Linked DNA regions of Homo sapiens: regions 1, 2, 3, 5 and 6 are each linked to region 4. Evidence: fine-mapped expression QTL. A gene starts in region 4. Each other region holds a variant in brackets. All regions are shown on one strand. Distances are from middle to middle. Region 1 overlaps SLC26A6 (solute carrier family 26 member 6). Region 2 overlaps ZNF589 (zinc finger protein 589). Region 3 overlaps SPINK8 (serine peptidase inhibitor Kazal type 8 (putative)). Region 4 holds the start of ZNF589 (zinc finger protein 589). Region 5 overlaps CDC25A (cell division cycle 25A). Region 6 has its middle 8.1 kb from the start of MIR4443.

What was found. PIP is the estimated chance that this variant, and not a neighbour inherited with it, causes the effect. A credible set is the group of variants that fine-mapping cannot tell apart.
Region 1: its variant is the best candidate, but not a certain one, in a credible set for the expression of ZNF589 in blood mononuclear cells (TOPMed, PIP 0.87).
Region 2: its variant is the best candidate, but not a certain one, in a credible set for the expression of ZNF589 in tibial nerve (GTEx, PIP 0.82).
Region 3: its variant is the best candidate, but not a certain one, in a credible set for the expression of ZNF589 in whole blood (INTERVAL, PIP 0.57).
Region 5: its variant is the best candidate, but not a certain one, in a credible set for the expression of ZNF589 in fetal neocortex (Walker 2019, PIP 0.82).
Region 6: its variant is the best candidate, but not a certain one, in a credible set for the expression of ZNF589 in whole blood (INTERVAL, PIP 0.85).

What each region holds. Positions count from the first base shown.
Region 1 is chr3:48,622,084-48,627,157 of GRCh38, reverse strand. It overlaps SLC26A6 (solute carrier family 26 member 6), which reads left to right. Exons shown (of 21, transcript NM_022911.3): 18 at 103-282; 19 at 473-527; 20 at 804-940; 21 at 1,158-1,435. The coding sequence ends at 1,172. Among named protein-coding and RNA genes, the nearest start is that of TMEM89, 2.9 kb to the right of the region's middle. The variant C/T (reference allele first, on the strand shown) is at 1,959.
Region 2 is chr3:48,259,629-48,264,702 of GRCh38, reverse strand. It overlaps ZNF589 (zinc finger protein 589), which reads right to left. Exons shown (of 4, transcript NM_016089.3): 3 at 3,764-3,890. Among named protein-coding and RNA genes, the nearest start is that of ZNF589, 21 kb to the right of the region's middle. The variant T/C (reference allele first, on the strand shown) is at 2,524.
Region 3 is chr3:48,309,527-48,314,600 of GRCh38, reverse strand. SPINK8 (serine peptidase inhibitor Kazal type 8 (putative)) reads left to right here. Exons shown (of 8, transcript NM_001080525.3): 7 at 4,655-4,697. Among named protein-coding and RNA genes, the nearest start is that of MIR2115, 4.4 kb to the left of the region's middle. The variant T/C (reference allele first, on the strand shown) is at 2,799.
Region 4 is chr3:48,238,501-48,243,574 of GRCh38, reverse strand. ZNF589 (zinc finger protein 589) reads right to left here and starts at 2,471. Exons shown (of 4, transcript NM_016089.3): 1 at 2,361-2,471. The coding sequence starts at 2,403. RefSeq lists enhancers at 2,302-2,596, 1,787-2,704, 3,022-3,316.
Region 5 is chr3:48,166,104-48,171,177 of GRCh38, reverse strand. It overlaps CDC25A (cell division cycle 25A), which reads left to right. Exons shown (of 15, transcript NM_001789.3): 10 at 3,234-3,332. Among named protein-coding and RNA genes, the nearest start is that of CDC25A, 20 kb to the left of the region's middle. The variant A/TA (reference allele first, on the strand shown) is at 2,997.
Region 6 is chr3:48,202,120-48,207,193 of GRCh38, reverse strand. No RefSeq gene overlaps it. Among named protein-coding and RNA genes, the nearest start is that of MIR4443, 8.1 kb to the right of the region's middle. The variant C/T (reference allele first, on the strand shown) is at 2,005.

The DNA of each region.
Region 1 (5,074 bases), 380 kb before region 4:
CATGCTCCCCATCTGACCTTGCGTGTTCTCGCGTGTCTGTGTGCGGCCAGTCCTGCCTTCACTCTCTCATGGGTGGCCCTGGCAGCATGTCTGGCTCCCCAGCAGGTGAGCTCAGGAGATAAGATGGAAGATGCAACAGCCAATGGTCAAGAAGACTCCAAGGCCCCAGATGGGTCCACACTGAAGGCCCTGGGCCTGCCTCAGCCAGACTTCCACAGCCTCATCCTGGACCTGGGTGCCCTCTCCTTTGTGGACACTGTGTGCCTCAAGAGCCTGAAGAATGTAAGGACGGGGGCAGGCCAAGGCCCCTCGAGCTTCCACACTGACCCTGTAATTTGCCCTGAGAGCACTCCCAGCCTCTGACTCCCCAAACCCTCAAAGCTCCCCTTCTAAACTCCCTCCCCAAGCCTGCCCGAGCCCCCCTCTGAGTCCCTGAGCCTCCCTCTGAGGCTGGCCCCCTTTTCCGCTACAGATTTTCCATGACTTCCGGGAGATTGAGGTGGAGGTGTACATGGCGGCCTGCCACAGTGAGTAGGGTGGGAACAGCAGGAGGGACCTGGGAAGAGGGTAGGATACTTTTGGCCAAGGGGTTTTCCAAGTAGCACAAGGAAAAAGTCTTTCTCTGGAACTGGAGGTCAGAGGTGTCCTGGGAGACAGGAGTCCAGGGTTACAAGTGATGTGGATTCAGCTGTAGCCTCAGGGGTGGAGGTCAGGGGTGATGAGGTCAGGGCATTCTGTTGGCTCCCGGGAGTTGAGTTCCTAGAGGTTCTGAGAGTCAGGGGAGGCCTACTTCTTGCCCACAGGCCCTGTGGTCAGCCAGCTTGAGGCTGGGCACTTCTTCGATGCATCCATCACCAAGAAGCATCTCTTTGCCTCTGTCCATGATGCTGTCACCTTTGCCCTCCAACACCCGAGGCCTGTCCCCGACAGCCCTGTTTCGGTGAGCCTACCTCTGGCCTGCCAAGCTCTTTTTTGTTAATCTATTGCTTGTCCCCACCCTGGCCCCAGCTCCAGGGAGTCTTTCCTGGTGGCCATGGCTCTGTCCCCAGTGGGCCCAGTGCTTTCTCCGCTGTCTTTGGATAAAGCTGTTCTAGGGGCGGGGGTTGGTCTGTGTCCTTTGGAAACTGACTAGAGCCTCCCCTCCTCTGCCTGCTCAGGTCACCAGACTCTGAACATGCTACATCCTGCCCAAGACTGCACCTCTGGAGGTGCAGGGCACCCTTGAGAAGCCCCTCACCCCTAGGCCGCCTCCAGGTGCTACCCAGGAGTCCCCTCCATGTACACACACACAACTCAGGGAAGGAGGTCCTGGGACTCCAAGTTCAGCGCTCCAGGTCTGGGACAGGGCCTGCATGCAGTCAGGCTGGCAGTGGCGCGGTACAGGGAGGGAACTGGTGCATATTTTAGCCTCAGGAATAAAGATTTGTCTGCTCAACTCCAGTCTCTGCTGTGGCTTGGTGGGGCCCTGGTGGTGGGTGGTCCACAGCTGTGGCTGCTGACCCTTCCTGTGCCCTGAAGGTGAGACGGGGCAGAAGGTGTAGGAAGGACTCGGGAGGTTAGGGTACAGAGCAGGGGAGCTGTGGAGGCATCCCCTGTTAAGGTCTCTCCCCAGCCATGCATAGCCCTCACTCGCTGTCTCCTCAGATGTGAAACAGTTGGAACCAGAGCTGCTTCTCAGGAATAATTTGCTCTCAGGAATACCCGAGAAGGTACAGGGCAGCGTGGGTGCCAATGGGCAGTCCCTGGAGGATACAGAGTGAACACCTAGGAGCAGCTGTTCCCCCACACTGCTGCTCTATGCTTAAGAATAAGCATGACCGGGCCGGGCACGGTGGTTCACACCTGTAATCCCAGCACTTTGGGAAGCAGAGGCAGGTGGATCACTTGACATCAGGAGTTCAAGAACATCCTGGCCAACATGGTGAAATCCCACCTCTACTAAAAATACAAAAGTTAGT[C/T]GGGCGTGGTGATACATGCCTGTAATCCCAGCTACTCGGGAAGCTGAGGCATGAGAATCGCTTGAACTTGGGAGGCAGAGGTTGCAATGAGCCCAGATCATGCCCCGCATGGGTGACAGATCACCTGGGCATGGTAGAACACTGTCAGCCAAGGAGTGTGTGTTGATTTCTGCCATTAAATGCCGACATCTGGGCATGTGACCCAGCAGGCAGTGGGGCGTTGGGTCAGCTGACAGTGATGGCAGGGGAGGGACCGGGTCTTAGGATCTGTCTGGGCCTCAGTGTGCTGTTCATCGGTAGAGCGTGAGTGGCTACAATTCTTGCTTCAGGGGTTGCTCAGTGAATATTAAATGAGTAGATGCCGGGCCTATAATCCCAGCACTTTGGGAGGCCCGAGGCAGGTGAAACCCCATCTCTACTAAAAATACAAAAATGAGCTGGGCATGGTGCTGGACGCCTGTAATCCCAGCTACTGGGAAGGCTGAGGTGGGAGGATCAATTGAACCCAAGAGGCGGAGGTTGCAGTGAGCTGAAATCATGCTGGAGGGAGCTGCACTCCAGCTCGTGTGACAGAGCAAGACCCTGTCTCAAAAATAAATGAGGAAATGCCAGGAAATGCGAAAACAATGCTGGGCTCAGGTCCTCTCCTCCAAACATGCGAGCACTGCTGTTCATCAGGTGCTGAGCAGGTGCCAGGCTCTGTGCAGGGGTCTGGGCACCATCCTGAGCATGGACAGAGGCCACCCTGCCCTTCAAATCGCAGAGGTACCCTTGCCTGGCTCTGTTTTATCATGGTCTGTATTGGTGCCTGGCACCATCACCCCCCACCCCCCAACTCATGGCCTAGAAGTTCAGCCCCAGGAAATAAGAGCTTTTATTTACTCTGTCACACCACGTCCTAGCATCAGAAATGGTGCCTGGCAGCTGCTCAGTAAATATTGTTTGAATGAAGCTTATATGTTGGAGAGGGCAGTTTAGACCTCAAACAGGAAATTGCAGGTAGTTAGAAATGCTTTGAAGAAAATAAAGCAGGGTCACGTGATAGAAGAGGTCATATGTTACCCAAGATGCTCATGGGAGGGGGACTCAGCAGGTGACCCTGGAACTGAAATTCCAGCCATAAGAAAGAAGGTGACTTTCTAGGCCTGGGGAGCTGTGGTGCTGGCAGTGGGGGTATTGAGGCAGGCCTGTGGGAGGCAGGGGCAGCATGAGCTGAGGTGAGAGGGTGGGGGGACCTCACAGTCCAGGGGGAGACTTTGGGCTTTGTTCTGACAGCGGGGGAGCTGCCTGTGGATTTTGATCCCACATCTTTGAGCACTCACCCAACTGCGATGTGGACTGTGGGGCTGCGGTTGGGTGTGGGGGACCTGCGAGTTTGGTCAGCCTAGAGAGGTGATGCCCCTGGTGGAAAGCAAAAGGTTTTAGGGGCCGTGTGGATTTTTTTTTTTTTTCTTTTTAAATCGGCTCTTGCTCTGTTCCCCGGGCTGGAGTGCAGTGCTGTGATCACCACTCACTACAGCATTGACCTCCTGGGCTCAAGCGATCTTCCTGCCTCAGCCTCCTAAGTAGCTGGGACTACAGGTACATGCCACCACACCCAGCTAGTTCCCCCACCTCCCCCCACCCAAGACGGAGTCTCGCTCTGTCGCCCAGGCTGGAGTGCAATGGTACGATCTTGGCTCACTGCAACCTCCACCTCCTGGGTCCAAGTGATTCTCCCACCTCAGCCTCCTGAATAGCTGGGATTACAGGCACCCACCATCATGTCCAGCTAATTTTTGTATTTTTGTAGAGACGAAGTTTCACCATATTGGCCAGGCTGGTTTTGAACTCCTGACCTCAAGTGATCCTCCTGCCTTGGCCTCCCAAAGTGTTGGGATTACAGGGGTGAGCCACCGCACCCAGCCCCAGCTAGTTTTTGTTTGTTTGTATTTTGAGATGGAGTCTCGCTCTGTCGCCCAGGCCAGAGTGCAGTGACATGATCTCAACTCACTGCAAACTCTGCCTCCCGGGTTTAAGTGATTCTCCTGCCTCAGCTTCCCAAGTAGCTGGGACTACAGGGGTGTGCCAGCACGCCCAGCTAATTTTTTTTTTTTTTTGTATTTTTAGTAGAGACGGGGTTTCACCATGTTAGCCAGGATGGTCTCAATTTCCTGATGTCGTGATCCACCCACCTCAGCTTCCTGAAGTGCTGGGATTACAAGTGTGAGCCACCACAGCCGGCCTTTTTCTTTTTTTTGAGATGGAGTTTTGCTGTTGTTGCCCAGGCTGGAATGCAATGGCGCGATCTCGGCTCACCACAACCTCCACCTTCCAGGTTCAAGTGATTCCCCTGCCTCGGCCTGCTGAGTAGCTGGGATTACAGGCATGAACCACCACGCCTGGCTATTTTAGTAGAGGCAGGTCTCCATGTTGGTCAGGCTGGTCTCGAGCCCCCGACCTCGGGTGATCCATCTGCCTTGGCCTCCCAAAGTGCTGGGATTACAGGCCTGAGCCATGGTGCCCAGCCTAGTTAAAAAAAAAAAAAAAGTTTGTAAGGTCGGGTGCGGTGGCTCACGCCTGTAATCCCAGCACTTTGGGAGGCCGAGGCAGGTGGATCACGAGGTCAGAAGATTGAGACCATCCTGGCTAACACGGTGAAACCCCGTCTCTACTAAAAATACAAAAAATTAGCCGGGCGAGGTGGCGGGCGCCTGTAGTCCCAGCTACTCAGGAGGCTGAGGCAGGAGAATGGCGTGAACCCGGGAGGCAGAGCTTGCGGTGAGCGGAGATCGTGCCACTGCACTCCAGCCTGGGCGACAGAGCAAGACTCTGTCTCAAAAAAAAAAAAAGAATTTCTGTTAGTTACTGGTTTCTTTAACTGTTTGGGACTTAGTTTCTTTTTTTATCTTTTTTGAGAAAAAATCTCACTCTGTTGCCCAGGCTGGAGTGCAGTGGTGCAATCACAGCTCATTGCAGTCTTGACCTCCCAGGCTTAGGTGATCCTCCCACTTCAGCCTCCTGGGTAGCTGGGACAACAGGCATGTGCCACTATACCCAGCTAATTATTTGTATTTTTTATGGAGATGGGGTTTTGCCGTGATGCCCAGGCTGGTCTCAAACTTCTGGGCTCAAGC
Region 2 (5,074 bases), 21 kb before region 4:
CGTGTGCCACCATGCCCAGCTAATTTTTGTATTTTTAGTAGTGACGGGGTTTCACCATGTTGCCCAGGCTGGTCTCGAACTCCTGAGCTCAGGCAATCCACCCGCCTCAGCCTCCCAAAGAGCAAGGATTACAGGTGTGAGCCACCGCGCCCGGCCTTTTTATTTTTTTTTAGACATAGTCTTGCTCTGTCACCCAGGCTGGAGTGCAGTGGTGCGATCTTGCCTCATTGCAACTTCCGCCTCCCAAGTTCAAGTGATTCTCCTGCCTCAGACTCCTGAGTAGCTGGGATTACAGGCACGTGCCACCTCGCCCAGCTAACTTTTGTATTTTTAGTAGGGACAGGGTTTCACCATGTTGGTCATGCCGGTCTCGAAATCCTGACCTCATGATCTGCCTGCCTCGGCCTCCCAGTGTGCTGGGATTACAAGTGTGAGCCACCATGCCCGGCCTCTTCCTTCTTTATTCTACATTTCTAATAAACAAGACCCTTCAACTTAAAAAAAAGAAAGTCCATAATGTTCAGAGTAAAAGCCAAGCTGCTTAGAGGGCCCACTGGGTTCCACCTACTGCTTCTTTGACTCAACCTATTCTCCAGCCTTCATTTGCTCCATCTGAGCCACACTGTCCTCCCCTCCTGATGATGTACACTGGCTGGTTTCTATGTCTACAGAACCCTTCTCCCATACATATCACTGGTATATTCTAAGAATGCAGAACTAGACCCAGTGTTTAATAGTCAATACATACTTTTGAGTAAATGAGTGATAGGAGCCAAGTTAATTAAAAAAGGACTAGAGGGTTAGGCAGAAGATGTTCTCTAATACTGTCAGAACAAAAGCCTCCTTTTTATAACCTATATTTTGTAACATCTCACTTACTGTCCTGAAACAAAATTCATATTTAATTAAATGTACTCATAATGTTTTGTGTTTTTTTTCTCTCCAAGATGGAGTCTTGCTCTGTTGCCCAGGTTGGAGTGCAGTGGCGCAATTTCAGCTCACTGCAACCTCCGCCTCCGGGGTTCAAGCGATTCTCCTCCCTCAGCCTCCTGCGTAGCTGGGATTACAGGTGCACATCACCATGCCGGCCTGTTTTTTTGTTTTTGTTTTTGTTTTGTATTTTTAGTAGAGGCAAAGTTACACCATGTTGGCCAGGCTTGTCTTGAACTCCTGACCTCATGATCTGCCCGCCTTGGCCTCCCAAAGTGCTGGGATTACAGGCATGAGCCACCGCACCCAGCTGCAGAATGTTTTAATAATGTAATGCCCTATCCGAAACATAAAAAAGAAAGGAGCCGGGCGTGGCGGCTCACGCCGGTAATCCCAACACTTTGGGAGGCGGAGGCAGGCGGATCATCTGAGGTCAGTAGTTTGAGACCAGCCTGACCAACATGGTGAAATCCTGTCTCCACTAAAAATAAAAAAATTTGCTGGGCGTGGTGGCACGTGCCTGTAATCCCAGCTACTCAGGAGGCTGAGGCAGGAGAATCACTTGAACCAGGGAGGCAGAGGTTGCAGTGAGCTGAGATTGCACCATTGCACTCCAGCCTGGGCAACAAGAGCAAAACTCCGTCTCAAAAAAAAAAAGAAAAAAAGAAAGTAATTTACAATAAAAATATTCATTTCAATATGTAATCTCTTGACAAGGCTACATTATGAGACATACCAGAGCAATCAAGTGCTTACAGGAAGATCATTGTGGACATGATAGCTACAAATGCAGACACACATGGATATGCCTTATTGATGACTACATGTGTTCTAGTGGTGACAGACCTAAGTGTGCTACGCAAGCGGTTACTCAAACACCACAACCAGCACTGCCATGAGTGATGTATTTTTTTTTCATATTGGTGAACACCTCTTGGTAAAGCTCAAAACTATTTTCTCTTGATTTACAACCTACCATGCAAAAATTACGATATTATCTAAAATAGATTTATATTCTAGAGTCAGAACATTACAAACAAATCCGTGGGCTACAGGGAAGAAAAAAAGAAGGAGAGAGAGAAGGAATTGATATAAATTAAGAGAAGTTTTTAGAAGATGGAATGTGTGGATCTCATCTGAATCCTGATTCAAATTTGCAAAAAAACTTTTTTGAGATGATCAGGTAAATTTGAACATGGACTAGGTGTTGGATGATACTGAAGCACTACTGATAACTTTGTGAGTTCTGATCATGATACTGTGGTTATATAAGAAAATGTGAAGCCGGGCACAGTGGCTCATACCTGTAATCCCAGCACTTTGGGAGGCTGAGGCGGGCAGATCACCTGAGGTCAGGAGTTCGAGACCAGACTGGCTAACATGGTGAAACCCCGTTTCTACTAAAAATACAAAAAATTAGCCGGCTGTGGTGATGCGCGCCTGTAATCCCAGCTACTCGGGAGGCTGAGGCAGGAGAATCACTTGAACCCAGAAGGTAAAGGTTGCAGTGAGCCAAGATCGCATCACTGCACTCCAGCTTGGGCAATGAGAATGAAACTCCATCTCAAAAAAAATAAATAAAATAAAATGTCC[T/C]TATTTATTGGAGTTGCACTGTGATATAAAGGAGTGGTATGTCATGATATTTGAGATTTGCTTTAAATAATTCAGCAATAAGAGAAAAAGTGATGTAGAGAGAAAGGGAAAGATGGATCAAGGATGAAAACAGTTTAACACCTGAAATGGATACAGTGAGATCCAAAGTTTCAGGGTCAAGATTAATTTGAATCAGATTATTTTAAGGCAATTTTAACATATTCTTCAGAATCAACAAAATGTATGAGCATAAAGATAAAGAGTAACAAGACCAGATGAAACAAGACCAAATCAGATTGGCCAATTGAAAGCTAACTTAAATGGATGAACCTACACTGAAACAGAAATAGGCAACTAGGATTGAAATGAGGCCAATTCAAATTAGATTAAAGCAGTGCAAAATAGGTCTAAGCAGATGCAAAGAGAACAAATCAGAACTATGTAATTCATAGCTATGCCAGATGAAGACAAACCTTGAGAAAGATGCTGAGAGAAATGTGAGGAACTTTGAAAATCTGACTCTCATCAAGAACTCAGGAATATCCAGAATAATTTTGTATTTGCTAACCTAGTAATCAGTTTTAGTTTTTAAATAAGTGAATAAAAACATGATGTATGATATCCAGTAATCTATAAAACATCAAACTGACAGATTTATACCTTAAACGTTAAACATTTCCAACTTCTAGGTCATAGAAGGCATCTCTTACTATTCTCCTCCTTGTTCTCTGTACTCCAACCACCTTGGCCTCCTTGCTTTTCCTCCAAAGGACTAGATATGCTCCTGCCTCCAGGGCCTTGGCACTGCTTTCCCCTTGTCTGGAGCAGTTTCCCACCTGACCCACATATCCAACCTCCTCACCTCCTTCAAGCCTTTGCTCAAATGTACTTCCTCATAGAGGCCTACCTTGATCATGCAATTTAAAAGTTCAGCCAGTTGCCTCCACACCCGGCACTTCAGATCTCCCTTAATCTACTCTACTTATATTTATATATATCTTATACATTTTTTTTTAGCTATGTAGCACTTATTATCCTTTGACATATATAATTTACCTATATATGCTGCTTATTGTATATTGTCAGTCTACCTATACTAGAATATAAGCTCCACGAGAGAAGAAATGCTTTATTATTCTATTCACTGATATGTTCTAAGAGATTAAAACATTGGCTGGCACACTGAATATGGTCAGTAAATACTTGAATGGAAAAATGAAGGAAGAGAACATGTCCTTACCCAATGAGACCAGATTCCTGAGATTTTCCAGCATCACTTCTTTGTATAGGTTCCTCTGCTCAAGGCTCAGTCTCTTCCACTCTGCCTCAGTGAAAAGCACAGCCACATCCTCGAAAGTCACTGGTCCCTAAATCAACCGATAAATTCATATTCATCAAGTCACCATTAAGATTCACAGTGAAAATGGAACTGGTGGTCTTGGAGCATCTAGCTACATAAGAAATTGATCTAGGCCGGGCACGGTGGCTCACACCTGCAATCCTAGCACTTTGGGAGGCCGAGGTGGGAGGTTATCTTGAGGTCAGGAGTTCGAGACCAGACTGGCCAATATGGTGAAACGCTGTCTCCACTAAAAATACAAAAATTAGCTGGGCGTGGTAGCACACGCCTGTAGTCCCAGCTACTTGGGAGGCTGAGGCAGGAGAATCACTTGAACCTGAGAGGCAGAGGTGGCAGTAAACCAAGATCACTCCATTGCACTCCAGCGTGGGTGACAGAGTGAGACTCCGCCTCAAAAAGAAAAAAATGGATCTGCTACTTGGGAGGCTGACATGAGAGGATTGCTTGAGCCCAAGAGTTCAAGACTAGCCTGAGCAACACAGTGAGACCCTGTCTCTATGAAAAATAAACAAAAATTAGCCAAGTATGGTGGTGTGCACCTGTAGTTCCAGCTACCCAGGAGGCTGAGGTAGGAGGATTGCCTGATCCCAGGAGGTCAGGGCTACAGTGAGCTGAGATCGCACCATTGCACTCCAGCCTGGGTGACCAGAGCGAGACCCTGTCTCAAAAAAACATACACCATATGCTTTTTCATCTTCAAGTCTCTTCTCTTCTAAATGAGTATTCAGTGGTGTTCTATCTTTAGTTACACTTGAAAGGTGGCATTGCCCTCAGATACCAAGGGAGTCACCAATCAACTTCTACTGAATTCAAGCATTATTTGCTCAGTGACCAACTGCTTCAGCCTATGGGTATTCCATGACACTCCTAACTTGCCCTAGATTTTTTTTTTTTTTTTTTTGATACGGAGTCTCACTCTGTCACCCAGGCCGAACTGCAGTGGCGTGATCTTGGCTCACTGCAGCCCCTGCCTACCGGGTTCAAGCAATTCTCCTGCCTCAGCCTCCCAAGTAGCTGGGACCACAGGTGCATACCACCACACCTGGCTAATTTTTTTTGTATTTTGTTTTTAGTAGCGATGGGATTTCACCATGTTGGCCAGGCTAGTCTCCAATTCCCGACCTCAAGTGATCTGCCGGCCTCGGACTTGCTTTAGAATTTTAACTTCACTCTGCAGACTTTGGGAACAGT
Region 3 (5,074 bases), 71 kb before region 4:
ACAGGTCAAATAATGACAATTCTCTGGTAATGGTGCATTGAAGGCATTCCAACACCAGTCTTCTCCCTCCAGATGCTGCCAGGCTGCTGGTTTTCACTATGATTGTGGGTGGTTGTTTTTCATTACTACCATGGAACTGGGAATGCTGCAGATGGGTCCAGAGCAAGATAAAATGCCATGAAACTCACTATTCTTACTGAGAAGCAGCAATTTTTCTTCAATAGATGTTCCTTGGATTGCTGCATGGTTTGATTTTTTTTTTTTTAATTCCCAGAATTCTGGAAAACTTGATTCTGACCATTTTTGCCAGTGTTCTTGTTGCTTTCGTGGAGGAAATTTTAAAGATTCTTACTTCTCCATTTTCACTGTCCAAGCAAAAGGGCTCACTTTTGAATGAAGACACTGAGACCTGAGGGGAGCAACTTATCAAAGTTCTTATAACTATAAATGGGTGCAAATGCATATTTTTAAAGATTGAGGTAAAATTCATATGACATAAAATGAACCATTTTAAAGTGAACAAATTGGTAGCATTTAGTACATTTACAATGTTATAAAACTGCCACCTTTATTACTTTCAAAACATTTTTGTCACTCCAGAATAAAACCTCATGTCCATTAAGCAGTTAACTTCCCATTCCCTCCTCCCCACAGTTCCTGGCAACTAGCAATAGACTTTCTGTTTTTACAGATTTACTATTCTGTATATTTCACATAACTGGAATTATACAACCTATGATCTTTTGTGTCTGGCTTCTTTCACTTACATAATCATTTTGAGGTTCATCCACAGTGTGGCATATATCTTCATTTCTTTTTGTATTACTGAATAGTTTTCCATTATGTGTATATACCACAATTTTTTTATTTATTCATTGAAGGAAATTTGGGTTGTTTCCATGTCTAACTATTGTGAAGAGTGCTCTTATAGACATTTGTGTACAAGTATTTATTTGAGTACCTGTTTTCAGCCTTCTGGTTATATACCTAGGGGTGGAATTTGCTGAGTTATATGGTAATTCTGTGTTTAACTTTTTGAGGAACCATCAAACTTTTCTATAGGGGCTGAACCATTTTACATTCTTCCAGAAATATGAGAGTTCCAATTTCTTCACATCCTTGCTAGTACTTTTTAAAAATATTATTATATCCATCCTTGTGGGTGTGAAAATGGTATCTCATCAAGTTTTCATTTACATTTCTCTAATGACTAATGAGGTTGGACATCTTCTTATGTACTTTTTGGCTATCCATATACTTTTTTGGAGAAATATCTACTCAAGTCCTTTGCCCATTTTTAAAAATTGTGTTGTCTTTATGTTTTAGTTGTAAGAATTCTTTATATATTTTGAATACTAAATACTATGATTTTCAAATATTTCTCCCCCGATTCTATAGGTTGCCTTTTACTTTCATGATAATGTCCTTTGATGCACAAAGTTTTTAATTTTGATGACATCAATTTATCTATTTTTTCTTTTGTTGTTCTTACGTTTGCTATTACACCCAAAAAACCACTGTAAAATCCAAAGGCATAAAGATTTACCTCTAATTTTTCTTCTAAGAGTTTAGTAGTTTTAGCCCATTGATCTTTTTTTTTTTTTGAGACAGAGTCTGACTCTGTTCCCAGGCTGGAGTGCAGTGGCATGATTTCAGCTCACTGCAACCTCTGCCTCCCAGGTTCAAGCAATTCTCCTGCCTCAGCCTCCGGAGTAGCTGGGACTACAGGTGTGCACCACCACGCCCAGCTAATTTTTTGTATTTTTAGTGGAGACGGGGTTTCACCATGCTGGCCAGGCTGGTCTCGAACTTCTGACCTTGTGATCCCCCTACCTCGGCCTCCCAAAGTGCTGGGATTACAGGCGTGAGCCACCACGCCCGGCCCCATTGATCCATTTTTGAATTAAATTTTATATATGGTGTGAGATAGAGGTCTAACTTTTTTCTTTTTTCTTTTTGAGACAGGGTCTCACTTTGTCACCCAAGCTGGAGTGAAGTGGCACGATCTTGGTTCACTGCAACCTCCACCTCCTGGGTTCAAGCAATTCTCCTGCCTCAGCATCCCCAGTGGCTGGGATTACAGGTGCCCACCACCAAGCCTGGGTAATTTTTGTATTTTTAATAGAGATTGGGTTTCACCATGTTGGCCAGGCTGGTCTCAAATTCTTGACCTCAGGTCATCTGCCTGACTCAGCCTCCCAAAGTGCTGGGATTATAGGTATCAGCCACCATGCCCACCCTGTCTAATGTTATTCTTTTGCATGTGGTTATCCAGTTGTCCCAGCTTTATTTGTTGAAGAAACTATCCTCTTCCCCCATTGAATGGCCTTGGTACCCTTGTTGAAAATCAATTGGCCATAGATATATGAGTTTATTTTTGGATCCTTGATTCTTTTCTTTTGTTCTGTATTTATATCCTAATACCAGTACCAGTACCACTGATTATTATACTTTTTTTTTTTTTTTGGAGACAGGGTCTTACTGCATCTCCCAGGTTGGAGAGCAGTGGTGTGGTCATAGCTCACTGCAGTCTTGAACTCCCAGGCCCACACAATCCTCCTGCCTCAGCCTCCCAAGTAGCTGACACTGCAAGATTATTGTAGTGTTATAGTAAGTTTTTGAAATTGGACATTTGGAGTTTTCCAATTTTGTTTCTTTTTCAAGATGATTTTGGCAACTCAGGGCCCTTTGCAATTCTATATGAATTTCAAGATTGGCTTTTCTATTTCCACAAAATATAAAGGCCACTGGAATTTTGATAAGGATTTCATTGAATCTGTAGATTGCTTTGGGAAGTA[T/C]TGTCATCTTAAATTAATTCTTCCAGTCAGTGAGCATGGGATGTCATTCATTTATTTAGGCCTTCTTTATTTATTTTCAGCAGTTTCAATTTTGTAGTTTTGAGTGTACAAGTCTTTCACCTCCAGGATTCTTACTAAGTATTTTCTTTTTTGGATGCTGTTGTAAACTGAATTGTTTTCTTAATTTTATTTTGAAATTGTTCATTGCTGATTTATAGTTATAGAAACACAACTGATTTTTGTTTGTTAATCTTGTACTCTGCAACTTGCTGAATTTATTAGCTTTAGTCATTTTTATATTAATTATTTGGGATTTTCTACATATAGAATCATATCATCTTTGAATAGAGATCATTTTACTTCTTCCTTTCCAATTTGGATGCCTTTTATTTCTTTTTCTTGCCTAATTGCTCGCCTAGAATTTCCAGTCCAATGTTGAATCTCAGTGGTGAAAGCAGGTATTCATGTCTTGTTCCTGATCTTATACAGGTCTTTCAGTCTTTCACCATTGAGTACGATATTAGCTATGGGTTTTTCATAAGTGTTCTTTATCGTGTTGAAGAAGTTCTCTTCTATTCCTAGTTTTCTGGGTGTTTTATTATGAAATGGTGTTGGATTTTGTTGAATATTATGTGTGTATGTTTTGAATCAATTAGTATTATCATGCAGTGTTTTTCTGTCATTCTATTAATGTGATATTATTAAATTGGCTGATTTTTTTTTTGAAACGCTCTGAATTCTTGGGATAAAGGCCATTTTGTCATGGTGTATAATCCTTTTAATATGTGGTTGTATTCAATTTGTTGGTATTTTTCTGAGAATCTTTGCATCTGTATTCACAAGGGATATTGGTCTATAGTTTTCCTTTATGTGATGTCTTTGTCTGTCTTTGATAACATGGTAATGCTGTCCTCATAGAATGAAGTAGCAAGTGTTCCCTCCTCTTGTATTGTTTGGAAGAGTTTAAGAAAGATTGGTACTAAATCTTTTAAAAATATTTGGTAGGCCAGGTGCAGTGGCTCATGCCTGTAATCCCTGCACTTTGGGAGGCCGAAGCGGGTGGATCACCTGAGGTCAGGAGTTCAAGACCAGCCTGGCCTACATGATGAAACCCAGTCTCTACTAAAAATACAAAAAATTAGCTGGGCCTGGTGGCGCATGCCTGTAATCCCAGCTACTTGGAAGGCTGAGGCAGGAGAATTGCTTGAACCCAGGAGGCAGAGGTTGCAGTGAGCTGAGATCGTGCCACTGCACTCCAGCCTGGGCAACAAGAGCAAAACTCTGTCTCAAAAAAAAAAAAAAAAAATTTTTTTTTTGGTAGAATTCAGTACTAAAGCCATCTGGTGTTTGTCGGGACATTTTTTATTACTGATTCAGTATCTTTACTTGTCATAGGTCTGTTGAGACTTTTTATTTCTTATTAAGTTTTGATAATTTGTGTGTTTCTAGGAATTTGTTCATTTCATCCAGAATATCTAATCTATTGACATACAATTGTTCATAGTATTCTCTTTTAATCCTTTGTTTCTGTAAGGTCAGTAGCGATGTTTCAGCTTTCATTAAATGCATATTTTAACTTTAAGACACATTCTTTTTCTAATCCTCTGTATTTCTACTTGAATTTTCAAAGGCTATTTTGAATTTCTGTATTTTATTGTAGACTGAGTATGTTTTCTATACTCAATGTCTTTGACAAATAAAAATTCATATAGTAGAATTTTTAAATATTTGCCAAGAATTCATTATTAGCAGAATGTTTATTTCCCAAACTTAGCCAAAGATTATCAAGTAAAATTTAGTCAGAATTTATGATATACCATACAGCAAAAATAATTTTAAAATATAATTTCTTTCAGATTTGAAGGGCTTAACATAACTAAACTGTATGATGGACAATGTGTAAGTAAAGACACTTTTATTTTTTATTTTTAGAAGTAAACTAGATAAGTTAAGAGCTCACTGTTTTAGAGGGTTTTAAATGTTTTGTTATGAACATTTTCAAACATACATAAAAGTAGAGCCAATAATAGATCCCATAAGCCTATCATGTGTATTCAATAAATTGTAATGTTTTGCCACATTTCCTCCCTCTATTCTTTTATTTCTCTGTTTTCTTTGATGAAGTATATTAAAACAGGTCTCAGACATCATGTTATTCACTCCTACATACTTCAGAGTTCCTCTCTAATAAGTTTGGACATTTCCTTACATACTCAGAAGGTCTTATTACAACTAATTATTTCATTGTCATCTTCTAATACATACTTCATATTCAA
Region 4 (5,074 bases):
CTCCCAAAGTGCTGTGATTACAAACGTGAGTCACCGCGCCCGGTCCATTGTCTTTACTTTCTTTAGCTTTGCTATCCAATTGAACTGGTCTTGGCACAGTAGGCAGAGACAAAGCCCACCACCCTCAAAGAGTGGATGGAAGGAGGCACAAGGGCTCCCACACAGGACAAACAGCTACATGCTGAACAATGGCTTGGCAAACTACACACAAGCCAAATCCAGCCTGCCACCTGTTGTTATACCACCCAAAGGCTAAGAATAGTCTTTACTTCAGAAAAAAAAAATTTTAACACAAAGATGAAGTCTCACTATGTTGCCCAGGCTGGTCTCAAACTTCTGGGCTCAAGTGATCCTAGCCTCAGCCTTCCAAAGTGCTGGGATTACAGGCGTGAGCCACCATGCTGGGCCAGTTTTTACATTTTTAATTGGCTGAAAAAAAAATCAGAAACAGAATATTTCATAATAATGAAAATTATATATGAAATTCAAATTTCCTTTTTTTTTTTTAGAGTCTCATTCTGTTACCCAAGCTGGAGTGCAGTCATGCGATCTCGGCTCACTGAAACCTCTGCCTCCAAGGTTCAAGCAATTCTTGCGCCTCAGCCTCAGAGTAGCTGGGATTACAGGTGTACGGCACCACACCCAGCTTATTTTATTTTATTTTATTTTTAAAGTAGAGATGGGGTGTTGCCATGTTGACCAGGCTGGTCTTGAACTCCTGGGCTCAAGAGATCCTCCTGCCTTGGCCTCCCAAAGTGCTGGGATTACAGGCGTGAGCCACTGCACTCAGCCAAAATTCAAATTTCAATGTCTATAAAGAAAGTTTTATTGGAACACGGCAATGCTCATTCGTTTACCTATGGTCTTTGGCTGCTTTCACACAACAGCAGACCACTAGTCGTAACAAAGACCGTGTGGCCTACAAAGCCTGAAACATTTACCACCTGGCCCTTAAAAGAAAACGTTTGCAAGACCAGGTGCAGTGGCTCACGCCTATAATCCTAGCACTTTGGGAGACCGAGGCGGGAGGATCCCTTGAGCCCAGGAGTTGGAGACCAGCCTGGGCAACATAGGGAGACCCTGTTTCTAAAAAAACCAAACAGAAAAAAATTTGCCCAGCCCTGTTCTAGACTGTTCCTGTTGTTACATCCAAAGTCATTTGGGGCCGGGTGTGGTAGCTCCCACCTGTAATCCCAACACTTTGGGAGGCCGAGGCAGGTGGATCATCTGGGGTCAGGAGTTCAAGACCGGCCTGGCCAACATGATGAAACCCCGCCTCTACTAAAAATACAAAAAAATAGCCGGGCGTGGTGGCGTGTCCCTGTAATTCCAGCCGCTTGGTAGGCTGAGGCAGGAGAATCGCTGGAACCTGGGAGAAAGAGGTTGCAGTGAGCAGAGATCGCCCACTGCACTCCAGCCTGGGCTACAGAGCAAGACTCTGTCTCCAAAAAAAAAGTCTTTTGGGCCGGGTGGGGTGGCTAACACCTGTAATCCCAACATTGTGGGAGGCCAAGGTGGGTGGATTGCTTGAGGCCAGGAGTTCGAGACCAGCCTGGCAAATATGGCGAAATCCCCTCTCTACTAAAAATACAACAGCCGGGGTGGTGAGGCGCCGCCTGTAATCCCAGCTACTCCGGAAGCTGAGGCACGAGAATCACTTGAGCCTGGGAAAGCGGAGGCTGCAGTGAGCCTAGATCCCGCCACTGCACTCCGGACCGACTCAAAAAATATAAAAATATAATATACTCCGGGCGCGGTGGCTCACGCCTGTAATCCCAGCACTTTGGGAGGCCGAGGTGGGCGGATCACGAGGTCTGGAGTTCAAAACCAGCCTGGCCAACATGGTGAAATCCCCGTCTCTACTAAAAATACAAAAATTAGCCAGGCGTGGTGGAGGGCGCCTGTAATCCCAGCTGCTCGGCAGGCTGAGGCAGAGAACTGCTTGAACCCGGGAGACGGAGATTGCAGTGAACGGAGATCGCGCCACTGCACTCCAGCCTGGGCGACAGAGCGAGACTCCGTCTCAAAATAAATATGATATAATATAATAATACAAAATGCTGTTCTTCAGTTGCACTCCACACATCTCAAATGCTCAGCAGCCATTTATGGCCAATGACTGCCGGAGTGCACAAGTGCAGGATGCCCGGTGAAGAGTCGTGGAGTGAGCACCGTGGAGACTGTACGGGACACCTAGGGAGGAACCTGGCCCCCCAGGGGAGTAAGAGCCGCTGTAGGGGTAGTCAGCGCCTCACACAGCTCGCACCCCACGCGCATCCCTGGTGGATACGGCCGACGCCTGCGCGGCGCCTGCGGCTGGAGCACCGAATGGGGGAGGCGATCTCGCGGCCCCGACTCACCTTCCGCAGTCCAGCCCAGTAGCTGCTCCCGCGGGGCCCACATCTGCGCGCGCACGCACGCACGAAGCAAACGAGGTAGCAGCACCGTGTGTGAAACGGATTAGAATGCGCACCGCGGGCCACTGGCGGCGCCAGAAGAAAGAAGCAGGACTGGGTGAAGTGCGTCACCGCGCGGCGCGCAGCCTGCCGGGAAGCGTAGTTCTCGGGGCGAAATGCGGCTTGTGCAGGGCGAGAGAAAATGCTGAGGCGCACTTTGACCTTCTAGGTCCCCCTCGGCCGCAATATTTGGGGTTGTGCTTACCACAGGTACCCATAAGCAAAATATAGTGTTGTTTTCCATGGTTGTAAACATTATATAAATACACTTACAATGCCTGCTACTAGCTCTTTTGCGCAGTTCTATAATGACACGTGTTGACCTGTTCATTGTGTGTTCACTGCTGTGTGGTATCTAATGTAGAAATACACCAGGACTCCAATTGGACAGACTCATGCGCATCCATGGAGAGCTTCTCAAGGACAGTGGTTCGCAAACTTGTTGTTGTTAAAATCCTTTTACACTCTTAAAAATTACTGAGGACCCCAAAGAGCTTTTGAAACCGCCTTTGCAAAATTATACCTAAGGAAATTATGATGTTATAGGAGTTATTAAGAAATTATTTTAAGCAGATAGAGAAGGAAAGGGGTCCTTGGGAAGTTTTTGTTTCTTTTAAAGCAGCTCCAGAAAGGTTTCTTGTCTAGCAGGAAAGCCTGGGCTCCTAGAGCAGGATGGCAAGCTTTGATATGGAAATACAGGCCATTAGAAACTGGACGCACCCAAACATGGCGATTCCCGCCGTCCTTTTCTTTGCCCTGACATGTGCCTGGCAACATGGCCACCCCCCACATATTCCCACGTGTGTAGAACTTCATGGAGCCCTACATTTGCATATTAAAAAGCTAGGGTGGGAGGGCCAGGTTTTTGGCTGCCACATAAATGACACATCTGATCAAACTAATCCCCTGAGCCCTATGGAAACCAGACACCGCCTCCTCCAGCATCCTCAGATAAGCAGCCACTTTTCCGCACACGGCGCTTTCTCTTTGTTGGAATCCCCGCTCCCTCTGTCTCTGTATGGGGGAGCTGTTTTCGTCTTCCTTCCTTCTTTCTTGCCTATTAAACTTTTCGCTCCTTAAAACCACTCCACGTGTGTCTGTGTTATTAAGCCTATCAGAGACCAAGGACCCTGGTGTTCCTCCAGTCATCAGAGCCTTATCAATGACAGTAAAAGATATCAGATCTAACCCACCTCATCTTCCTTTCAACCTCTAAACTGTCTTTGTCCACTTCTGGGCATAGGCCAAAGTAGCCTTGGGAAGGAATTCAGTTTATAGCTTAAATAATAGCCCTTCCCAAGGGCTAAACTGTTCTTGTAAAATGAATGAAAGGCCACCAGCCACCAAATTAGGATGAGAAGGGCTGGAATTCTAAATATTACCAGCCATTATTCCAGAGGCCCTAAGACGCACAACTTCCCCAATTACTCTTTTGAAGCACAACTTCCCCAATTACTCTTTTTTTTTTTTTAGGGAAAAGAACACGGAGTCTCACTCTGTCTACCATGCTGGAGTGCAGTGGTGCCATCTCGGCTCACTGCAACCTCCCTCTCCTGGGTTCAAGCGATTCTCCTGCCTCAACCTCCTGAGTAGCCGGGATTACAAGCACGCACCACCATACCCCGCTAATATTTTTGGATTCTTTTTTTTTTTGGTTGGTTTTTTTTTTTTTTTTTTTTTTTTTTTTGAGACGGAGTCTCGCTCTGTCGCCCAGGCCGGACTGCGGACTGCAGTGGCGCAATCTCGGCTCACTGCAAGCTCCGCTTCCCGGGTTCACGCCATTCTCCTGCCTCAGCCTCCCCAGTAGCTGGGACTACAGGCGCCCGCCACCGCGCCCGGCTAATTTTTTGTATTTTTAGTAGAGACGGGGTTTCACCTTGTTAGCCAGGATGGTCTCGATCTCCTGACCTCATGATCCACCCGCCTCGGCCTCCCAAAGTGCTGGGATTACAGGCGTGAGCCACCGCGCCCGGCCAAGGTTGGTTTTTTTTTTTTTTTTTTTTTGAGCCCAGGCTGGAGTGCAATGGTGCGATCTCGGCTCACTGCAACCTCCTCCTCCCGAGTTCAAGCAATTATCCTGCCTCGGCCTCCGGAGTAACTGGAATTACAGGCATGCGCCACCACGCCCGGCTAATTTTGTATTTTTAGTAAGGACGGGGTTTCTCCATGTTGGTCAGGCTGGTCTCAAACTCCTGACCTAGGTGAGCCGCCCACCTTGGCCTCCCAAAGTGGTAGGATTCCAGGCGTGAGCCACCACGCCCAGCCCTCAATTACTCTTAAAGATAACATCACTATTGTGAACCTAAGATTGGCCTTTTGAGATGTCTTTTCAGATTTTTGCATTTCTGACAACTGAACGGCCCCAGCTGGACCTGCCAACCAGTTTTGTGGCCACCACCTAGGAACTGACTCAGCCTAAGAGAACAGCTTCAACTCCTTATGATTTCATCCCGAGCCAACCAATCAGCACCCTGATTCACTGGCCCCCTTCCCACCAAATTATCCTTAAAAATTTTGATCTCTGAGTTTTTGAGGAAACTGATTTGAGTAATAATAAAACTCTGGTCTTCCGCACAGCCGGCTCTGCATGAATTACTCTTTTTTTTTTTTTTTTTTTT
Region 5 (5,074 bases), 72 kb after region 4:
CTGGTCTTGAACTCCTGACCTCAGGTGATATATCCGCCTTGGCCTCCCAAAGTGCTGGGGTTACAGGTGTGAGCCACTGTGCCCGGCCAGAATATTCATTTTCTTTTACCGTAATAGAGATTGACCTTTTTATTTCCATATTTGTAAAACTTTTTTTGGATAAAATAATACTGTTAATAATTATTTTGTATATATATTGGCCCTCATGTTTTGGTTTATTTTCATATATTTTAATTTTTAGTATTTTAAATTCCATTGTGGAGAAAATGTCAAGCATTGCTAGAGTACAGTTATCATACCTGTGATATTGTGAAATATATATTTAGTCTTCTTCCCCTTCTGTCATATAACTCCTAAAATCTTTGGAATATCCAAGGTCATATCTTTTTGTATACTAATGATTGATAGCTTCAGGGTGGGACTGGTCACTGGAAAGACAGAGACATGATTAGAGGTTGGAACTTTCAGCCCCACCCTCCAATATCTACGGAAAGGAGAGGGGCTAAAGGTCAAGTTGATCACTCATGGCCAATGGTTTAATCAATCATTTCTATGTAATGAAGCCTCCCTAAAACCTTGAAAGGACAGGGTTCAGAGAGCTTCTGGATAGCTGAACACATGGAGGTTCCTGGAGGTTGGGGCACCCAAGGAGAGCATGGCAGCTCCATGTCCCTTCTCCCATACCTCACCCTATGCATGTCTTCTTCTATATCCTTTGAATATCCTTCATAATAAACTGGTAAATGTGTTTTCTTGAGTTCTGTGAGCCACTTCTAGCAAATTAAACCCAAAGAAGGGGTCATGGGAACCCCTACTTAAAGCTGGTGGTCGTAGATCAGAAGATCCAGAGGCCCAACTGGTGTCTGAAGGGTGGTGTGGTTTTGAGGACTGGGCCCTCAACTTCCTGATCTGACGCTCTGCAGGTAGATAGTGTCAGAATTGAATTGGACGGCACCCAGCTATTTTCCACTGCAGAACTGCTTGCTTGCTTGCTTGCTTGCTGGTAGGGAGAAATCCCCTCATATCTGGGGGTAACAGCACTTCTGTCTTCTGTTGCTGTTGAGTGAGGGAATAAGAAAAATCACTTTGAGTTTGTGGGGTGTTTTCCTCACACAAACATATCATACAGGGCTAAATTTCTGGGTGTTTTTTTGTTTGTTTTTTTTTTTGAGACCAAGTCTCGCTCTGTCGCCCAGACTGGAGTGCCATGGGTCGATCTCTGCTCACTGCAACCTCCGCCTCTCAGGTTCCAGCAATTCTCCCGCCTCAGCCTCCCAAGTAGCTGGGACTACAGGCGCCCACCACCACGCCTGGCTAATTTTTTATATTTTTAGTAGAGACGGGGTTTCACCATGTTGGCAAGGCTGGTCTCGAACCCCTGACATCAAGTGATCCACTCACCTCGGCCTCCCAAAGTGCTGGGATTACAGGCATGAGCCACCACGCCCGGCAGAGCTAAATTTCTTACTATCAAATGTCAAATATCCAGTCTGGGTTCAGTTTTCCCCAGTTGTCTCCTAAGTACTTTTACAGTTTATTTGTTAAAATCTGGATCCAAATAAAGTCTATACACTGTAGTTGGTCAATAGGTCTCTTACTCTTCAGATTTCAGTGCTCCATCTGTTTCCCTCTTGCATATTTTTATTTGTTGAAGAGCTCAAGTCATTTGTCCTGCAAAGGTTCCCACAGTCCTGTGGGGTCTTCAGACATTGTCTTCTATCCCCTATATTGCCTTAACCTAACTCTGGAAAGGATGGATTGAATTCCAGTTCTATTTGTTTGGCAAGAATATCACATAGGTGATTTTGTCTACTTTGATCAGGAAGTATAATGTGCCAGGCAGCCATTGGTGATTGCTGCCCAGATTTTTTACTTCATTTCACCAGGGTTTCAGAAAGATGATACTGCAGTTTTTACATTCTTTCCTCATTAATTAGCTAGAATATATCTATAAAGAGAAACTTACACTCATCAAACACTGTGGTTACCCTTGGGAAAGGCAGGATGAATATTGGATCTCTTTATTTGCCAGTTTCCAAATAATGCCCTACCAAGCATCTTCCAAAGTTGAAAGCAAGACTTATAGTTGTTTTTCAATAATAATCAGGAATTCATGGGTTAAAACATTTAATGTGTTTCTGTGTATTACAAGTATTATCCTTTTACTCAAATTATCCCCTTTTTAACAGCTGGCTTCCTCTTCTCATTGAATAAAGCTAAGACGTAGGCCGGGCGCGGTGGCTCACACCTGTAATCCCAGCACTTTGGGAGGCCAAGGCAGGCAGATCACCTGAGGCCAGGAGTTCAAGACCATCTGGCCAACATGGTGAAACCCCGTCTCTACTAAAAATACAAAAATTAGCTGGGCGTGGTGGCGCACACCTATAGTCTCAGCTGCTCTGGAGGCTGCGGCAGAATCGCTTGAACCTGGGAGGCAGAGGTTACAGTGAGCCAAGATCACTGTACTCCAGCCTGCACTCCACTCCTGTACTCCACTGCACTCCAGCCTGAGCGACAGAGCGAGACTCTGTCTTTTTAAAAAAAAAAAAAAAAAAAAGTTAAGACATACTTTTTCTAAACTTAATCCTAGTTTTAACCCCCCTTGTTTCTTTCTCTTTTTCTGGAGATAGTTTCAGTCTGTCACCCAGGCTGGAGTGCAGTGGCACCATCACCACTTGCTGTAGCCTCGACCTCCCCAGGCTCAGGTGATCCTCCCACTTCAGCCTCCCAAGTAGCTGGGACTACAGGCACACACCACCATGCCCAGCTTGTGTGTGTGTGTGTGTGTGTGTGTGTGTGTGTGTGTGTGTGTGTGTGGACAGGGTCTTGCTCTTTGATCTGGTCTGGAACTCCTGGGCTCAAGCGATTCACCTGCCTTGCCCAGGCTGGTCTGGAACTCCTGGGCTCAAGTGAGTAACCCACCTTGGCCTCCCAAAGTGCTGGGATTACAGGCATGAGCCAAACCACCTGCACCCCCTTTTTTTTTTTTTTTTTTT[A/TA]AGGAAGGAAGGAAAACTTAGTTTCAGAGCAATTCGGTTAGACACTGGAATAATAGGAGACCTAGTCAATAACCCACATCTGTTTTTGTTCACTCCAGATTCAATAAAATAAAATAAAAACTTCTTACTAAATGTAGGCATTAACATTTTAGTCTCCTCGAGACATGCTCCAAGTGAATGTTTTCGGAAGTTCCATTCAGAACCCTTGTCTCATTCTCTACCTTTGATTTGTTACAGACTCTTCATCAGTCTTTATCCCTGGCATCTTCCCCCAAAGGAACCATTGAGAACATTTTGGACAATGACCCAAGGGACCTTATAGGAGACTTCTCCAAGGTAATTGCAAGCAGAGCTGCTCTGGCAAGTGTAGGAGGGAGTGTGGGTATTTAGAATCCCACTCAGCCTGTCTCCCTCCCCAGGGTGGTTCCTGGCATACCTCCAAAAGGACACAGTTAAAAGAATGTTAAAGGTAGGGAAGCAAACTTAGTTTCTCATGATCAGGTATATGTTGGTTTCTGAGACTGTAGATATCACTATAGCTGATGGGCAGTTTTAGGTAGGGAGCTGTCCACCAACCACCTTGATTGTAACCCAAAGACTAGGCTCTCTGGGAACTGTGTTATTATAAAAATAGTAATTAGCAGGATAGTGTACAGCAGAAATAAATCTGTAGCCACACTACAAGTCTGCATGTTGAAAGGTTATCTTAGAAGGTCTGGGATTGAGACTGAATTTCTCCGTTCAGAGAAGCTTGGCCATTGAGGGAAAAGACCCTCCAGGAAGTCTAGAGGAAGATCTTCTAATAGCCTGATATACTACATGAAGGCTTGGCTGCAGTAAAATACAAGGCTAGGACAGGGAATGTGTCAATAGCAGCTTCTTTAATCACATTTTGACTTGAAGGTTACCAGATCAATGTTTTATTCATTAATTTAGTTAACATTTATTGAAGCACTTATGTGTTAGGCAGAGATTCCAAAATGAGATACAGTTCCTTCCCTCAAAGAATTTAGCATGTGGTTGGAGAGGTGAGACGTGAACTACATGTACCACATGGTAGACTGAAATAAATTTTAGTGAGGTGTAAACATAAACAGCATGCCGTGAGAAGTAAAAGGGTTTATCTTGGCTAGGGGGTTGGGGAACGTCTGGGGTTGGGCCGTTGATATTTCAGCCCAAATGGGTTTTGAAGGAACGGAGAATGAAGAGAACAAGCAAAGATCCAGCTGTATCCTCAGTTTTGGAACCTTCTCTTGTTTGGCAGGGAGAGATGTGGTCTTACTATGTTGCTCAGGCTGTAGTGCAGTGGCTATTCGCACATGCTATCATAGTACACTGTAGCCTCAAACTTATGGCCTCAAGTGCTCCCCCTGCCTCAGCCTCCCAAGTAGCTGGGACTACAGGCATGCACCACCACACTCAGTGGAATTTTCAACTTGAATTGAGGCCTGGTTATATTTGTCTTAATGGGCCTATGCATGGGGATAGATGAACTCTTGGCTCAGCCAGTCACCCTAATGAGTAATTGCTAATGTGTGCATCTTCCTCCTCAAGGCTGGGCTAGGTCTCTTTTTTTCCTATCCCCAGTGCCTGGCACCATGCTGGACATAGCAGGTGCTCAGTAAATGAGTGAAATCTGTATGTTTAAGTGCTATTCGCAGTCTAACTACTGACGTGTGGATTCTTGACAAAAGCAGGAGGAAAATGAGATTACCTGAGGTTTCTTTATTTAAATCTGCCTTACTAGCTAGGTAACCTTGGATAAGGTGCTCAAAATGGGGATAATATACCTCATTGGTTTGTGTGAAAATTAAATGTCAGGATGTTAATGAAGTAACTAGAAGAGTAACTAGTGTGTACTAACTAATGTTTGTTTGCTTGTTTGTTTGTTTGTTTTTTGAGAGGGAGTCTTGCTCTGTCACCCAGGCTGGAGTGCAGTGGTGCAATCTCAGCTCACTGCAACCTCCGCCTCCTGGATTCAAGCGATTTTCCCACTCCAGCCTTCCGAGTAGCTGGGACTATAGGTGCATGCTAACGCCCGGCTAATTTTTGTATTTTTAAAAGAGTTGGGGTTTCAC
Region 6 (5,074 bases), 36 kb after region 4:
CAGCTGGTGAAGCAGGGGGCTCTCTCCATTGGGCAAGGAGCCCCTGCCACGGTGGTCACCTATATGGGCAAGGGCAGCCCCACTGAAATGAGTTATCTCCCAGCAAACTTGCCTACAGCAACAGTATTGTGTAGGGCCTCTGGGACCCATCCTGTCACCAAAGGAAAAGCCCCAACACTAATTTCTGGGGTTGTCGTGGTAACAATACCATGCAGGGAGCCTTGGGCCAGGTGCCACCTGGATCTGAGTTCAAACTGGGACCCCTGAGAGGGGTGTGGCTGGGGAAATGGAGCCAATGGAAATTATGTTGTGTGCCTCCTCCCAGCCGCACCGTGGCCATAGTGTCTATGGAGTCTGGCCACTTGAGTCCAGGGATGTGACCTGTGTGTGTGGTCCTCTAAGATACAAAGGGCTCCTGTGTGTCCACCTCCTTTGAGCTCACAGCACTCCTGGAAGGACAGGGCAGGGGTAACCATCAGCCCCATTTGGCAAGGGAAGAAACTGAGGTCCAGAGCCAGGTGGGAGAGTTGCCTTGAGAGGCAGGTCTTGGCTAAGTCATGGCTGGTGGCAGGACTCAGACCTCTGGCTCCAGTTCACAGTTTCTCTTGGTCTGATCTGGGGCCTCCTATTTCTCTCAACTGTGCTCCCTGTCCCCTTCTGTCTTGAGCCCACCAAACACCACCCTGACCAGCCCTGTGTCTCTCCTATAGTCTAGTGCGGCAAGAGGTGCTGGGGATTCAGCTTTTCAATCTGCTGAACTCTGGGCATTGACAGGCTGGACTAGGGGTGCCCTTCTGCCCTGTGCTACCTCCAACTCTCTTCCTTCCCCTCCAGGCTGTACCCCTGCTCCTCTGGCTGCTTAAGACCAGGAACAAAGACTCCAAGGAGACTCTGGGCAAGTATGGAGGGAAATACGTTCCTCATAGAATGGCCTCCAGGAGCCCCTTCCTGTGTTGTTGGGAGTGTGGAGCCACTATTGCCAGGACTGGCTACATAATTTGCAGCACCCAATGCAAAATGAAAATGTGGGGCCCTTTGTTCAAAAATCATAAAGAATTTCAAGACCTCAGAAACAGAGCATTGAACTAAGTACAGGGCCCTTCTGAGTGCAGGGGCCCTGTATGACCGCACAGGTCACATGGCCATAGCTCTGCCACCAGCACCAGAAAACAGTCATAGCAGGAAGGAGTTCAAGAAGTGGCTTCAGGAATTCCTCAAATCACAGAGATTTAAATCATCTGGGAAACATAACAACATGCACTTAAGACTTTATTTATTGGTTTGGTAAAGTCTTCTTTAAGAAATTAAGGGCTGGGCGCAGTGGCTCACGCCTTCAATCCCAGCACTTTGGGAGGCCGAGGTGGGCAGATCACAAGGTCAGGAGATCGAGACCATCCTAGCTAAGACGATGAAACCCCATCTCTACTAAAAAATAAAAAAACTTAGCCAGGCATGGTGGCAGGAGCCTGTAGTCCCAGCTACTTGGGAGGCTGAGGCAGGAGAATGGTGTGAACCCGGGAGGTGGAGCTTGCAGTGAGCCGAGATCGCGCCACTGCACTTCAGCCTGGGCGACACAGCGAGACTCTGTCTCAAAAAAAAAAAAAAAAGAAATTAAGAAAGAGCTCTAAACCCATACATTCAAGCGTGTGACCAACAACACTGACTATTGCAACTTTCCATTGTCCAGAAGGGGTAACTGAGGCCCTCAGAGAACAAGGAGAAAAGGGCTTGGCAAAGCCCCAGGTGGGGCGTGGCCATGCTGGGGTTCAACCCCATGCCAGTGCTCCTTCTGCCTGCTGCAGAATTAGGAGCACCCCCAGCTACCCGAACCTAGCGGGCAACTGGGAACTTGGAGAGCTGGCCTGTGCCCTCCTCTCCAGCCCAGTGCCCTTGGAACCCATGCAGGCATAGAATCAGTGAGCTGAGATCGTGTCACGCCTGGGCAACAGGGAGAGACTCCATCTCAAAACAACAACAACAACAAAACAAAACAAAAAAACACAA[C/T]TGACAGGCAGGGCTTAGTGGCTCATGCCTGTAATCCCAGCACTTTGGGAGGCCAAGTTGGGTGGACCATGAGGTCAGGAGATCGAGACCATCCGGCCAACATGGTGAAACCCCATCTCTACTAAAAATACAAAAATTAGTTGGGCGTGGTGGTAGGTACCTGTAGTCCCAGCTACTCGGGAGGCTGAGGCAGGAGAATCACTGGAACCTGTGGGGAGGTTGCAGTGAGCCAAGATCACACCACTGCACTCCAGCCAGGGGACAGAGCGAGACTCCGTCTCAAAAAAAAAAGAAATTTGGTTACCTCTGTGGCATATAATGATTTTATGTAACAATTATAATTATTAATAACAAACACTAAGCCATATCAGAATTATAGGAGTATTCCATAATTTGGGAACACATACCAATAACATATTTATACAAATACAGCCCAAAGAAAACCAAACGCCATTTTATATTTGACAATGCTTTTGTATGACTTTTTTTTTTGAGACGGAGTTTCGCTCTTGTTGCCCAGGCTGGAGTGCAATGGTATGATCTCAGCTCACCACAACCTCCACCTCCTGGGTTCAAGCAATTCTCCTGCCTCAGCCTCCTGAGTAGCTGGGATTAGAGGCATGCGGCACCACGCCCAGCTCATTTTTGTATTTTTAGTAGAGATGGGGTTTCTCCATGTTGGCCAGGCTGGTCTCAAACGTCCAACCTTAGGTGATCTGCCTGCTTCGGCCTCCCAAAGTGTTGGGATTACAGGTGTGAGCCACTGCGCCCGGCCTTGTATGACTTTTAAACCAAATAAGCCAAATGTTACTGTTGCATTAATGCATTATTGATGTCAAACCCAATTTTTCTTTCTTTTTTTTTTTTGAGACGGAGTCTTGCTCTGTCACCAGGCTGGAGTGCAGTGGCGCAATCTCGGCTCACTGCAACCTCTGCCTCCCGGGTTCAAGCGATTCTCCTGCCTCACCCTCCCAAGTAGCTGGGATTATAGGTGCCTGCCACCATGCCTGGCTAATTTTTGTATTTTTAGTAGAAATGGGGTTTCACCATATTGGCCACGCTGGTCTTGAACTCCTGACCTCGTGATCTGCCCGCCTTGGCCTCCCAAAGTGCTGGAATTACAGACCATGAGCCACCACACCCAGCAAACCCAATTCTTAATAAAACCTTATAGACAAATATATTTTAATCTTAGTCAGTTTGACCATAAGGTAAGATTTTCATAAACCTTTTATAGCCCTTTACAAATTTTTGTTAAAGAGCAGATCATCATGGCCAGGACCAGTGGCTCACACTTGTAATCCCAGCACTTTGGGAGGCTGAGTCGGGCAGATCACCTGAGGTCGGGAGTTCAAGACCAGCCTGACCAACAGCAAAGAGTGCAAGGCAGATCAATCCAAAGAGAATAGCAGTTAACATCCTGTAATGCTAAACCTGTTCTTAGCTGAAAGGGAGTTTACTGAGAGTAGCCTCCAACTCCCTAAATCTTAAAGGGACTCTAACCCTTCTAAGTTGGGCCTCTAACCCAAGGTCAGTCAAGCATTCTTGCCTTTTATTTTTATTTATTTATTTATTTTTGAGACGGAGTCTCACTTTGTTGCCCAGGCTGGAGTACAGTGGCATGATCTCGGCTCCCTGCAACCTCCACCTCCTGGGTTCAAGTGATTCTCTTGCCTCAGGCTCTTGAGTAGCTGAGATTACAGCCTTGCACCACCACACCCAGTTACTTGTATTTTTAGTAGAGATGGGGTTTTGCCATGTTGGTCAGGCTGGTCTTGAACTCCTGACCTCAGGTGATCCACCCACCTCAGCCTCCCAAAGTACTGGGATTATAGCCATAAGCCACCGCACCTGGCCTCCTGCCTTTTATTAAGAAAGGGGCCTCTAACCCACTCTGACTTAGGAGAGACTCTAAGTCCCCTAAATTGGGCCTCTAACCCAATCCCATTCTTTACCCGGATATAGGCATCCCACTTACCCAAAGTCCACCAATTAGTCCTGCAGTCCATTTCCTTTGGGGCAGGTGGTTTCTTCAATATTGTCCTTTCAGGATTCATCAGAAAGATGTTACCAGACCCCACCACTTACACAGTTAGCCTTTGGGTTGGGGATTTCCACACTATAGTCCCTTCATAGTCGCCAGAAAGATGCTACAGGAAAGGGGTCCCGATTCAGATCCCAAAAGAGGGTTCTTGGATATCGCACAAGAAAGAATTCAGGACAAGTCCACAGAGCAAAGCAAAGGCAAGTTCATTAGGAAAGTAAAGGAGTAAAAGAATGGCTACTCCGTTGACAGAGCAGTCCTGAGGGTTGCTGGTTGCCCATTGTTATGGTTATTTCTTGATGATATACTAAGTGAGGGGTGGATTATTTATGCCTCCCCTTTTTAGACCATATAGGGTAACTTCCTGACAATGCCATGGCATTTGTAAACTGTCATGGAGCTGGTGGGAGTGTAGCAGTGAAAATGACCAGAGGTCACTCTCGTGGCCATCTTGGTTTTGGTGGAATTTAGCCGGCTTCTTTACTGCAACCCGTTTTATCAACAAGGTTTTTTTTTTGTTTTTTTTGTTTTTTTTTTTTTTTTTTTTTTTTTTTTTTTTTTTGAGACGGAGTCTGGCTCTGTCGCCCAGGCTGGAGTGCAGTGGTGCGATCTCGGCTCACTGCAAGCTCCGTCTCCCGAGTTCACACCATTCTCCTGCCTCAGCCTCCCGAGTAGCTGGGACTACAGGCACCCGCCACTGCGCCCGGCTAATTTTTTGTACATTTAGTAGAGACGCGGTTTCACCATGTTAGCCAGGATGGTCTCGATCTCCTGACCTCGTGATCCACCCGCCTCGGCCTCCCAAAGTGCTGGGATTACAGGCGTGAGCCACCGCGCCCGGCCTTTTGTTTTTTTTTTTTTGAGACGGAGTTTCATGCTTGTTGCCCAGGCTTGAGTGCAATGGCGCGATCTCGGTTCACTGCAACCTCTGCCTCCCGGGTTCAAGCGATTCTCCTGCGTCAGCCTCCCAAGTAGCTGGGATTACAGGCATGCGCCACCACGCCCGGCTAATTTTTTTTTTTTTTT